Linked DNA regions of Homo sapiens. Changing the gene in region 1 together with any one later gene gives a genetic interaction. Each region holds a gene or a part of one and is shown in the gene's direction. Other genes may lie near its edges. The genes, in order: SRRM2, HAPSTR1 and SRRM3.

Evidence for each region.
Region 2: changes in SRRM2 (region 1) and HAPSTR1 together harm fitness more than expected from each alone (negative genetic interaction), as found in Homo sapiens cells (one large-scale study listed by BioGRID).
Region 3: changes in SRRM2 (region 1) and SRRM3 together harm fitness more than expected from each alone (negative genetic interaction), as found in Homo sapiens cells (one study listed by BioGRID).

The regions. Positions count from the first base shown.
Region 1 is NC_000016.10:2,758,995-2,762,643, forward strand, and holds part of SRRM2 (serine/arginine repetitive matrix protein 2), read left to right. Parts: coding exon 1-53; intron 54-145; coding exon 146-178; intron 179-357; coding exon 358-408; intron 409-574; coding exon 575-667; intron 668-752; coding exon of another isoform or gene 753-795; exon of another isoform or gene 796-1,128; intron 1,129-1,306; coding exon 1,307-1,505; intron 1,506-2,566; coding exon 2,567-3,649. UniProt on the Homo sapiens protein: Required for pre-mRNA splicing as component of the spliceosome. As a component of the minor spliceosome, involved in the splicing of U12-type introns in pre-mRNAs.
Region 2 is NC_000016.10:9,094,577-9,098,225, forward strand, and holds part of HAPSTR1 (HUWE1-associated protein modifying stress responses 1), read left to right. Parts: intron 1-3,649. UniProt on the Homo sapiens protein: Acts as a central player within a network of stress response pathways promoting cellular adaptability. The E3 ligase HUWE1 assists HAPSTR1 in controlling stress signaling and in turn, HUWE1 feeds back to promote the degradation of HAPSTR1.
Region 3 is NC_000007.14:76,208,335-76,211,983, forward strand, and holds part of SRRM3 (serine/arginine repetitive matrix protein 3), read left to right. Parts: intron 1-3,649.

The DNA.
Region 1 (3,649 bases):
AGCAGCTCTCCTCGACGGGAGAGAAAGAAAAGCTCAAAGAAGAAGAAGCACAGGTATGAGGTGGGAATACTTGAATGACTGGAGAAGGTTTGCTGAATTCAGGCAGAGGTGTTTCTTATGTTTTTTCTTCTCTTTTTTCCAACAGGTCAGAATCTGAGTCCAAGAAACGTAAGCATAGGTAAGAGCTCTTTAACTCATAGGGGGCGCAGTGGCATGTGGAGTGGTGATTTTTTTTTCTTGGAGTGAAGCTCAATTCCTTGATCTTCCTTGTGTCAACACTCCCTCTTTCCATTTCACTTTTGGTTTTATTTCCTTTTTTAAAGAAGTTACTTTTAACAACCTTTCCTTATTTCCCAGGTCTCCCACTCCAAAGAGCAAACGTAAATCTAAGGACAAAAAGCGAAAGCGGTGAGTGAATTTGTGGGGAATTTGCTTAGGAAGTAAGTGAACGCCACCTTAGTGGGAGGGAGTTGAATGAGTTATGTCCCTGACTGGTAAAGGGTTGAGGGATACGTGAGGAGAATCCAGGGCAGGTACAGCAGTACCCTGAGCTGTGGTGGTGGTCTTCCTTCAGGTCTCGAAGTACAACACCAGCCCCCAAGAGCCGCCGGGCCCACCGTTCAACTTCTGCTGACTCTGCTTCCTCCTCCGATACTTCCCGCAGTCGGTAAGGGGTAGTCCAGGAGGAAGGGAGGGAGAGGGAATGATGGGTTAATTAATTTAATATTTATTGAGCGCCCACGGTGTGCTAGGCGCTGCACAGACCATTCGGAAGACACGGTCCCTGCCCTCTAGGAGCTGACAGGCTAAAGCAACAGGATGGACAGACATATACATTTCCCCTTCTCTTTTTTTTTTTGTTTTTGTTTATTTGTTATTTTTGTTTCGTTCTGATGTATATGGACTGCCAGAATAGGGGGGGTGGTGGTTTGTTCGTGGTGTCTGGGGGAGGAAGGAATCCTTACCCTGGCTTCCTTAATCGGGGAAGGCTTCCTGAAGGAGGTGGGCTCAGAGGTGAGTTGTGAATGAAGCGGGTAGGGAGTGGGCTGGGTGGATGGTTTGGGGATGTTTGGGGGAGGTGAGTAAAGGGGTAGAGGGAGAACGCTCTTTGGGATTGTGTTGGGAAAAGAAGAACCAAAGTGGACTGTACTTGCATTTCAGTGAATGATTTGAGTTGTGCGACTAAAGGCTTTTTGGAAGAGGGTTGTCCAGTTAGGAAAGGTGGATGGGAGTTGGGGAGGGGGTTTTCTGTTCTCCCTTTGAGCTGATTTCCTTCCTCTCCCACGTCCTCAATTAACTCCTGCAGGTCTCGAAGTGCTGCAGCTAAAACTCATACAACTGCCTTGGCTGGGCGAAGTCCTTCCCCTGCTTCAGGGCGACGCGGGGAGGGAGATGCGCCTTTCAGTGAACCAGGTACTACCAGCACACAACGGCCTAGTAGCCCGGAGACTGCTACGAAACAGCCTAGCAGCCCTTATGAAGACAAAGATAAAGACAAGAAGGAGGTATGTTCCTGAGTTGGTGATGTTCATTGGATTGCAAATGTATAGATTTAGGATAGACATGTGATGTGAAAGGGAGAGGTAATAACTTATTAAAATAAATAAATTCAGTTTTTTTTCCTGCATTTCTCTCCTAGTTCTCTTACTGCATCTGCAGAACTTTTAGTGTTGTTACTAGACTGAATTGTGAACCCTTTAGAATCAAATCTCACTGGATGTTAGGTTTTATATTGTGTCTTGTTTATACATAGATAGAACTGGAACAAACGTTGTATCTTATCTGTGTACTCCGTATGATGCCTCTAGTTTCTTCTCTTTTTTCATTAAATGCTGGTCATGTCTCACCAAAACTTTTTAATCCATTGCGTTGCCACCAATAGTTTGAATGAAACACTGAAATAGTCTTCAGTAGTCTTCTGTTCCAATTTTAAGCATTAATCATTTCCTCTTGCTTTAGTGATTACAGTCTGAATTCTTGGCCTCTATCATCAATTTTCCATGTCATCCAGGGTTACCTTTCCAAATTACAAGTTGGTTGACCTCAGAAACTTAACTACTTCCTTATTGCTTTTGAATTATATTTAAGGCTTTTAATAGTCTGGTCTTTTTCTCATTTCCTGTACTCTACCCATCCTGGGCTGCTTTTTTACTCTTCACACAAATCATGTTCTCACATCTTTATTCATGCTGTTTCTTTTCGTTTAATAGAGTTATTCTTCAAAGGTGAAGTTGCCATTCGCTTTAGGAAACTGCTTATTTTTCCATTTAAAGATAGTTTTTTTCCATTCTTATAACATTTTGTAGTGGTATTTGTTAAATGTAGTAGTGCATTAGTTATTTGCATTTTGTGTTTCTTTTAGTTTTAAGATTCTGGCTATCCATATATTCATATGTTTTCACCACTGTGCTTTATATGATTCCTTGTTATTGAATGAAAGTGATCGCTTGTGGTCAGAGGGTGTGTAAAAGAAAAGTTATCATTGGAAAGGGTGTTGGGATCTTAGGGGTGATGTGAAGTTTTGGCGTTTATGAATCCCTATCCCTGCTCTCTCTTCCACTCTTAGAAATCTGCAACTCGACCTAGCCCCTCTCCGGAAAGGAGCAGCACAGGCCCAGAACCACCTGCTCCCACTCCGCTCCTTGCTGAGCGACATGGCGGCTCCCCACAACCCCTTGCAACCACCCCCTTAAGCCAGGAGCCAGTGAACCCCCCATCTGAGGCCTCTCCAACTCGGGACCGTTCACCACCTAAGTCTCCCGAGAAACTTCCCCAGTCTTCTTCCTCAGAGAGCAGCCCACCATCCCCTCAACCTACCAAAGTTTCTCGGCATGCCAGCTCTTCCCCAGAAAGTCCTAAACCTGCTCCAGCTCCAGGGTCCCACCGAGAGATTTCTTCTTCTCCCACATCTAAGAATCGCTCACATGGCCGAGCAAAACGGGATAAATCACATTCTCATACCCCCTCCCGTAGGATGGGGAGGTCCCGTAGCCCTGCCACCGCTAAGAGAGGGCGATCTCGGTCTCGAACCCCTACCAAGAGAGGTCATTCTCGATCCCGATCTCCCCAGTGGCGTAGGTCCAGGTCTGCACAGAGGTGGGGAAGATCTAGAAGCCCCCAGCGACGTGGCCGCTCTAGGTCTCCTCAGCGACCAGGCTGGTCTAGGAGCAGAAATACCCAGAGAAGAGGCAGGTCTAGGTCAGCAAGGCGAGGGAGGTCCCACTCTAGATCCCCAGCCACTAGGGGTAGATCTCGTTCTAGAACACCAGCCCGCCGGGGCAGGTCCCGCTCTAGAACACCTGCCAGGCGGAGATCACGATCCAGAACTCCCACCAGGCGTAGGTCTCGGTCTAGAACACCAGCCCGGAGGGGCAGGTCTCGGTCTAGAACACCTGCTAGGCGCAGATCTAGGACCCGATCACCAGTACGACGCAGGTCTCGTAGTAGATCACCAGCCAGGAGAAGTGGCAGGTCACGCTCTAGAACCCCAGCTAGACGTGGCCGCTCACGCTCCAGAACCCCAGCCAGACGTGGCCGCTCACGCTCTAGAACCCCAGCTAGACGCAGTGGTCGCTCACGCTCCAGAACACCAGCCAGGAGAGGGAGGTCTCGGTCTAGGACACCAAGACGAGGAAGATCCCGCAGTAGA
Region 2 (3,649 bases), 6.3 Mb from region 1:
ATCATGTCCTAAATAGAATGGTGCAGTCCTTGTAGCCTATTGTGTCTGGCTTGTTCCAGTTACTATGATAAGGTTCACCCATCGAGTTCGCATTGCAGGTGTGCATAGTTCAGTGCCTTTTGATTGGCTAGTATTACTCTATGGTGTGGCAGTACCATGGTTTATTCTTTTGCTTTTGTTGGTATTGCTTTGTGCTTGAAGGGGAAGGCAACACATTTTTAGTGTTTTTATGTGCCAGGTTCTTAGCCTAGGCCGTATAAAATGGGATTGTCCTCTGGCTTTGGTCCTGTTGGGTTCTTGTAGAATGTGTCCCTTTAGGACTAACCTAGCAGTTTTCGTTAGTGCTAACTTTTCGTGTAAGAAGATGGGTTCAGCAGTTGAACTCTGAAATAATCCTTAATTTGATTACTTCATTTAAAAATGTTTACAATTTGTTTGTTTTCCTGCTCAGAAAACTTAAGGAGGAACATTAATTTTATTTTTAGAAAACATCACATATGATTCTTGGATTATTGTAAATGCTAGATTGTTAGTCTGAACTAGTTTTATTTTGTACCTTGTTTCTGTACAGTGAAAACACATCCCTTGCCTAATAGAAATGGTAAGTTGTGTCTTGTGGAATTTGATAGTGCAACGTTTTCTTATTTGATTCAAGGAGTGTGTGGATAATACTCTGGATAGCCTCACACTTTTTCTTTTTCAGGGTGTGGTCTTTAGAGAACAGGCATACAGCTGTAGGAATAATTGGTTACCTTAAATAGAACCAATAAAATTAGCAAGGTGGTGTCACAAGTGCATGCAGCAGTAAGTAGTACTAAATTTAAATGATATTGGTTATAGTTCTGATTAAATATTTAAATATAATTTAAGGGGGGAAAAATTTGGTGGATACTTCTAAGTGGGCAGCAGGCAGCATTCCTGTATTTTGTATAATATCTGACAAGGTAAAAATGGCTTATTGTGCAGCCTGGGGACAATTTGGCACTCCTACCAGCTTCTTGATAACTACCAAGAAGTTCATTAGGTGTTTATCTCAATCCTGACCTTCATTAAGAAGGTCAGGATTGAGATTAAAAACCCAGCAGAGGGTCGCTTTTAGTTGTCAGAGGGCTTTTGAAAAGTTGAAAATTGAGTTAATTGGTTTGGTTGGAATGTGGCTAGAAGGATTTGGAAGATAATGTAAATGTAAGTTGAACTTCAGCAAGGACAGAATTCAATAAAATGGAGTGGGTGGTTACCTCTACTGTAAATAGTAGGGTCAGACTTGTCTTCCCCTTTCCAAAAAAGGAAGGAAGCCAAAATACTGACTGCTGGTTTTTGATTTGATAAATGCAAAGAGGATGGTGTTTCTTCAATATTCAGTAGTATCCTTAGATCAGTATATTTTTTGATTCCTGGAACTAAAGAAGGGGAGTAAAAAATCATTTTAATCTGGCTAGGGTTGATGTTTACCCAGTGTCATTGTGAGTTGGAGTCTACTGCCACATTGCCTGAGTTCAGATCTTGGCTCTGTTACTTCTTACCTTTATGGTCCTGGAGACAGTGAAGCCAGGTGTTAATTCACCATTGTGCTCCTTGACTTAATTAACTTAAATAGGGATAACTACCACAGATTCTAGTACAAGCTCTTAGCTTTGTGCCTGGCATAGTGAGTGCTCTGGCATTCATTGTGTTGGTGGTCAAGTTTTAAGTATTTTTTGGATTTTTCTCAATGTGGGCAGTGCTTAAAATGAAGGGAAGTAATAATAGTTTATTTTCTGTCTTTTTAAAAATTTTTTTTGTGTTGAAATAAACTCTGGTGTGTATTTCCTTCTTCATCTTCTTTCCCTAATTGGAGTAAATGTAAGTAGAATTGACAGGTGGGAAAAATAGTCTGATGCCCTTAAGTCCTCACTTTTGATACATCTTGATGCCAAGCCCTCTTTATATGTCTCACTTCAGTGTGGCCATTTTGGACTCGTACACTAAAGGAGAACTGAGCATAACTGTAAATGTGTGGGCCAAGTGGCAGGTGACTTAGAAACAAATGGCCAGAAATCATATTCTACCTGGAGACTGGTGGAGCTGGTTTGTGACTCACTTGGCTGCAAAAAATTATTACTGAGTTTGAGACTTTGTTCAAAATACCTTAGTGTGGATTACAGTGAGAAACCCTAAGCATTAAATTTCTATTTAACTTTTCATGCCTGTAATCCCAGCACTTTGGGAGGCTGAGGCAGGAGGATTGCTTGGGGCAATATAGTGAGATCCCGTGTCTTAAAATTTTTTTTTAATGAAAAAATTGTAGCTTTGTCAGAAGCAGTAGCCTCAGTTATACATAATACTTATTTTTTATAATAGACTGCTTTTTTTGTGTGTAGCTCTTATTTTTTTTCCTTTTTTGGAGACGAAGTCTCGCTCTTGTCCCCCAGGCTGGAGTGCAATGGCGTGATCTCGGCTCACTGCAACCGCCTCCCTGGTTCAAGCGATTCTCCTGCCTCAGCCTCCCCAGTAGCTGGGATTACAGGCGCCTGCCACCACACCAGGCTACTTTTTGTATGTTTAGTAGAGACGGGGTTTCACCATGTTGGCCAGGCTGGTCTTGAACTCCTGACCTCAGGTGATCCGCCCGCCTTGGCCTCCCATAATGGTGGGATTACAGGCGTGAGCCACCGCGCCTGGCTCTTTTTTTTTTTTTTTCTTTTGAGACAGGGTCTCATTCTGTCACCCAGGTGGGAGTGCAGTGGTGCTGTCTCAGCTCACTGTAACCTCCACCTTCCAGGCTCAAGTGATCCTCCCACCTCAGCCACTGAGTAGCTGGGACCACAGGCACCCATCACCATGCCCAGCTAAGTTTTTGTATTTTTGGTAGAGATGAGGTTTTGCCATGTTGCCCAGGCTGGTCTCCTGAGCTCAGGCGATCCACCTGCCTCAGCCTGCCAAAGTGCCGGGATTATAACTGTGAGCCACCATACCCAGCCTGTGTGTAGTTTTTCTGTGAAAGAATATGTTGGTTGCAAGTATGAGAAAACACAAGTTGGGCTGGCTTTAGCTGTATGGCCATGTATTGGCTCCTCTGACTTAAAAGGCCACAGTAGGATTGACTTAATTGAGCAGCCCAGGCTCCCCTGCTCTGTTCTCCCCTGTGTGCACTCGCACACTTTGTTATCAGGCTGGCTTCATTATGTTGGCAGAATGGCTTGTGGCTCACATCTTAGAGCCACTCAGTAAAGCTTAGAAGAGCCTAAAAATGACTTCTGTCATCTCTTGGCCATAACGGGGTCACTTGCTTACCCACAACCATTAATAGGGGTACATAGGGTTATGCACATGAGTTGAGAGCTAAGCCACAACCCCTTGAGCAAATGTGGAGGGAGCTTCTCTCGAAACATGGTTGCTATCTAAACAAAAACCTGGAGTGCTTTTAGGAAGGGGAGGACAAGGATTGGATGCCAGGCAGGCAACAAACAGTGGTTATTAAGATGCTCCCCCAGGGCTGGGGCGGGGGCTCACGCCTGTAATCCTAGCACTTTGGGAGGCTGAGGCGGAAGGATCATTTGAGGTCGGGAGTTTGAGACCAGCCTGACCAACATGGAGAGAAACCGTATCTCTACTAAAAATAAAAGATTAACTGGGCATTGTGGTGCATGCCTGTAATCCCAGCTAACTC
Region 3 (3,649 bases), on another chromosome or scaffold:
CCTCCAGATGATACTAGAAGTGACTCAGGTCCTGGGTTGGAAAGCACCCCGGAGCCAGGTATGGTGGCTCATGCCTGTAATCCCAGAACTTTGGGAGGCTGAGGTGGGAGGATCACTTGAGCCCAGGAGTTGAAGACCAATCTGGGCAACATAATAAGACCCTATCTCTACAAAAAAAAAAAGAAGAAGAAGAAGAAAGAAAGAAAAAGAAAAAATTAAGCCAGGCACGGTGGCTCACGCCTGTAATCCCAGCAGTTTGGGAGGCTGAGGTGGGCAGATCACTTGAAATCAGGAGTTCGAGACCAGCCTGGCCATCATGGAGAAACCCCATCTCCACTAAAAATACAAAAATTAGCCAGGCCTGGTGGAGGGTGACTGTAATCCCAGCTACTCAGGAGGCTGAGGCACGAGAATCACTTGAATCCGGGAGGTGGAAATTGCAGTGAGCTGAGATCACGCCACTGCACTCCAGCCTGAGTGAGTGTAGAGCAAGAAGACCCTGAAAAAAAAAAGAAAGAAAAAAGAAAGAAGAAAGGAAGGAAGGGAGGAAGGGAGGAAGGGAGGGAGGGAGGGAGAGAGGGAGAAAGGAAGGAAGGAAGAAAGAAAAAGAAAACATTAGCCGAGCATGGTGGTGTGCACCTGTAGACCCAGCTACTCAGGAGGCTGAGGCAAGAGGATCACTTGAGCCCAGAAAGTCAAGGCTGCAACGAGCTATGATTGCACCACTATACTCCAGCCTGGGTGACAGAGCAAGATCCTGTCTCCAAAAAAGCACCCCAGGAAGGGTAAAATCCAGTGCACTTCTGCTAGGTGGAGGTCACCCTTTGAGGGGGTTAGACTATACAATCGACATTTAATGAGGGCCTCCTGTTTTCTGGGCACAGCACGAGGCCCGAGGACACAGAGGTGAATCAGACTCTGCCTCTGACCTTGAGGAGCTTCTGGACCAGTGGAAAGGAAGGCAGTCATGAAAACTGATGATCCACTGAGGTTCTGCTAGAACTAAGTCGTCCAAAGTGATATGGAGCATCAGAGGAGGCTTCTGGGAGAGGTGACATTTCAGTTGGGCCTCAAAGAATGACAGGGGAGGTGCCAGACAGAGAGGGCAGAGGATTGGCACTCCAGAGAGCATCATGGGCAATGGCACAGAGGTATGAAACCTCCTGGCTGGATTCAAGGGATAGTTACCTAATGTGGTCATAGGACAGGACAGAGGGCAGGGCTGATAATAGGCAGCCCAGTGGGAGTGGTTGGCCTTGAAGAGTTGGAATTTTTTTTTTTTTTTTTTTTGATACAGGGTCTCACCATCTGCTAGGCTGGAGTGCAATAGTGAGATCATAGCTCACTGCAGCCTCCAACTCCTGGGCTCAAGATATTCTCTTGCCTCAGCCTTCCAAGTGGCTGGGACGACAGGCATGTGCCACCACACCCAACTAATTTTTTAATGTTTTTTTAGAGATGGGGTTTTGCTATGTTGCCCAGGCTGGTCTCAAATGCCTGGCCTCAAGCAATCCTCCCATCTCGGGCTCTCAAAGTGCTGAGATTACAGGCATGAGCCGCTGCACCCAGTCAAGAGCTGGAAATTTATTCAGAAAGCAATGACAATTATAAGCTCTGGAGCAATGCCATCAAATGCTCAGGTTTGCACTTCAGGAAGGCCCCTCTGCCTGCAATAGGGTAGGAGGCAGAGAGGGAAAGGAAGAGACCTAGAGCAGAGAGGTCAGGGAGGTGTCTGTCTGCCTATTCATGTGGGCAGGAGGTGATGGTACCACTGAAAGGGGGTACAGGATACCAGAGACATGCCTCTGGGAGCTGGGCAACCTGCCCCCTACACCAATCTCCAGCTGATGGCACAGCCCTTGGTATCAGACAGAGCACCCCAGGTTAGAGGAGTGGGCTTCAAGACTGGCAGAACCTCCAAGCCACCCCTTCTCTCATCAGGGCCCCAGAGGGGGCTTCTGGGGAGGCAGGAAAGCTGGAACATTCAGTGGGTCCTTCCTGGGGGAAGTCCTGTCTTCCCTCTCTGTCAGGCCCTATCTGACACATATGTCATTCTCCCCAGAAACCTCTCTCTTCCCTGCCTCTCAAATGCTGTCTTCTTCTCTCTCCTGCTCCTCAGACATCAGAAAGCAGAGATCGTCCTTGATTCATTCATTCATTCATCACACAGCAGTAGCTCTTCCCCACTTAAAAGCTGCATGAACACATTGTCATCCCCAAGCCCTGTGCTAGGCATTAGGTAAAGAGAGGAGAAGCAGGAGTTGGGCACGGTGGCACACACCTGTGGTCCTAGATACTTGGGAGGCTGGGACATGAGGATTGCTTGAGTCCAGGAGTCTTGGGGGGGCGGGTAGTGCACTATGATCACACCTGTAAATAGCCCCTGCACTCCAGCCTGGGCAACATAGTGAGATCCCGTCTCTAAAAAAATGGGAGGAGCAGGACAGTCCTTGAGCCCCAGCAGCCCTGGATAATTTTTTTTTTTTGAGATGGAGTCTCACACTGTTGCCCAGGCTGGAGTGCAGTGGGGCAATCTCCGCTCACTGCAACCTCTGCCTCCCAGGTTCAAGCGATTCTCCTGCCTCAGCCTCCCGAGTAGCTGGGACCACAGGCACCTGCCACTACACCCGGCTAATTTTTTTTGTGTGTGTGTATTTTTAGTAGAGACAGGGTTTCAACATATTGGGTAGGCTGGTCTCGAACTCCTGACCTTGTAATCTGCCCACCTCAGCCTCCCAAAGTGCTGGGATTACAGGCGTGAGCCACTGCGCCCAGCCAAGAATGTTTTTTAGATGGACTAGGGGTTATGTAGCAGCATTCCAAGGGCTACCGGGACACCGGTGTGGGGAAGGACTCCCTGACCTGGTTGACTTTGGTTAACTTTTGAGCCGGCCTCACAGATGGAGCTCGTAGAATGAATGCAGGTTTGCCAGGCAGAGGCACAAGGAGGCAGGGTGATTTTGGCAGGAGCAGAGAGGAGGAGGTAAGAGCACCAGGTGCTTGGGGAACAGCATGGCTGGAGTGCCAGGGTCCGGGCGGAGGAGCGAAAGCCCGGGTTGGAGACAGGGGCCTCACTGTTGGGGGGCGGGGGGGGAATTATTGCCAGGTGAGGCAGCCTAGCCTTTTTTCCGTAGACAGCAGAGAACGCCAGGAATGTTCCCAGTAGGTAAGTGCATGGCCAGAGCTGTTCCAGGAAGGTCACCCTGAAGAGCGGTTTTGATTTGGACAGATGGAGACAACAGGGGGCCTGCGGTGTGTTTTCAGGACATAGGTCATATGGCCTGGGGCCTTTCCTCTCCTCTCTGCGGCTCAGCCCAATCTGGACACCCAGAACCGCTGCAGCCATGGTCCCTAGGTGCAGAGGTACCTGCCCCAGTATTTCTAGAACAGTCCATGAGAAGCAGATTCCCAGGACCCACCCAAAACGACTGATTCCAAATCTGAGTGTGGGGCCTGAATTTTATTATTATTACTATTACTACTATTATTATTATTATTATTATTATTATTATTATTATTATTAGAGACTAGGTCTCACTCTCTTGTCCAGGCTGGAGTGCAGTGGCGCAATCACGGCTCACTGCAGCTTCCACCTTCTAGGCTCAAGCAATGCTCCTGCCTCGGCCTCCTGAGTAGCTGGCACTACAGG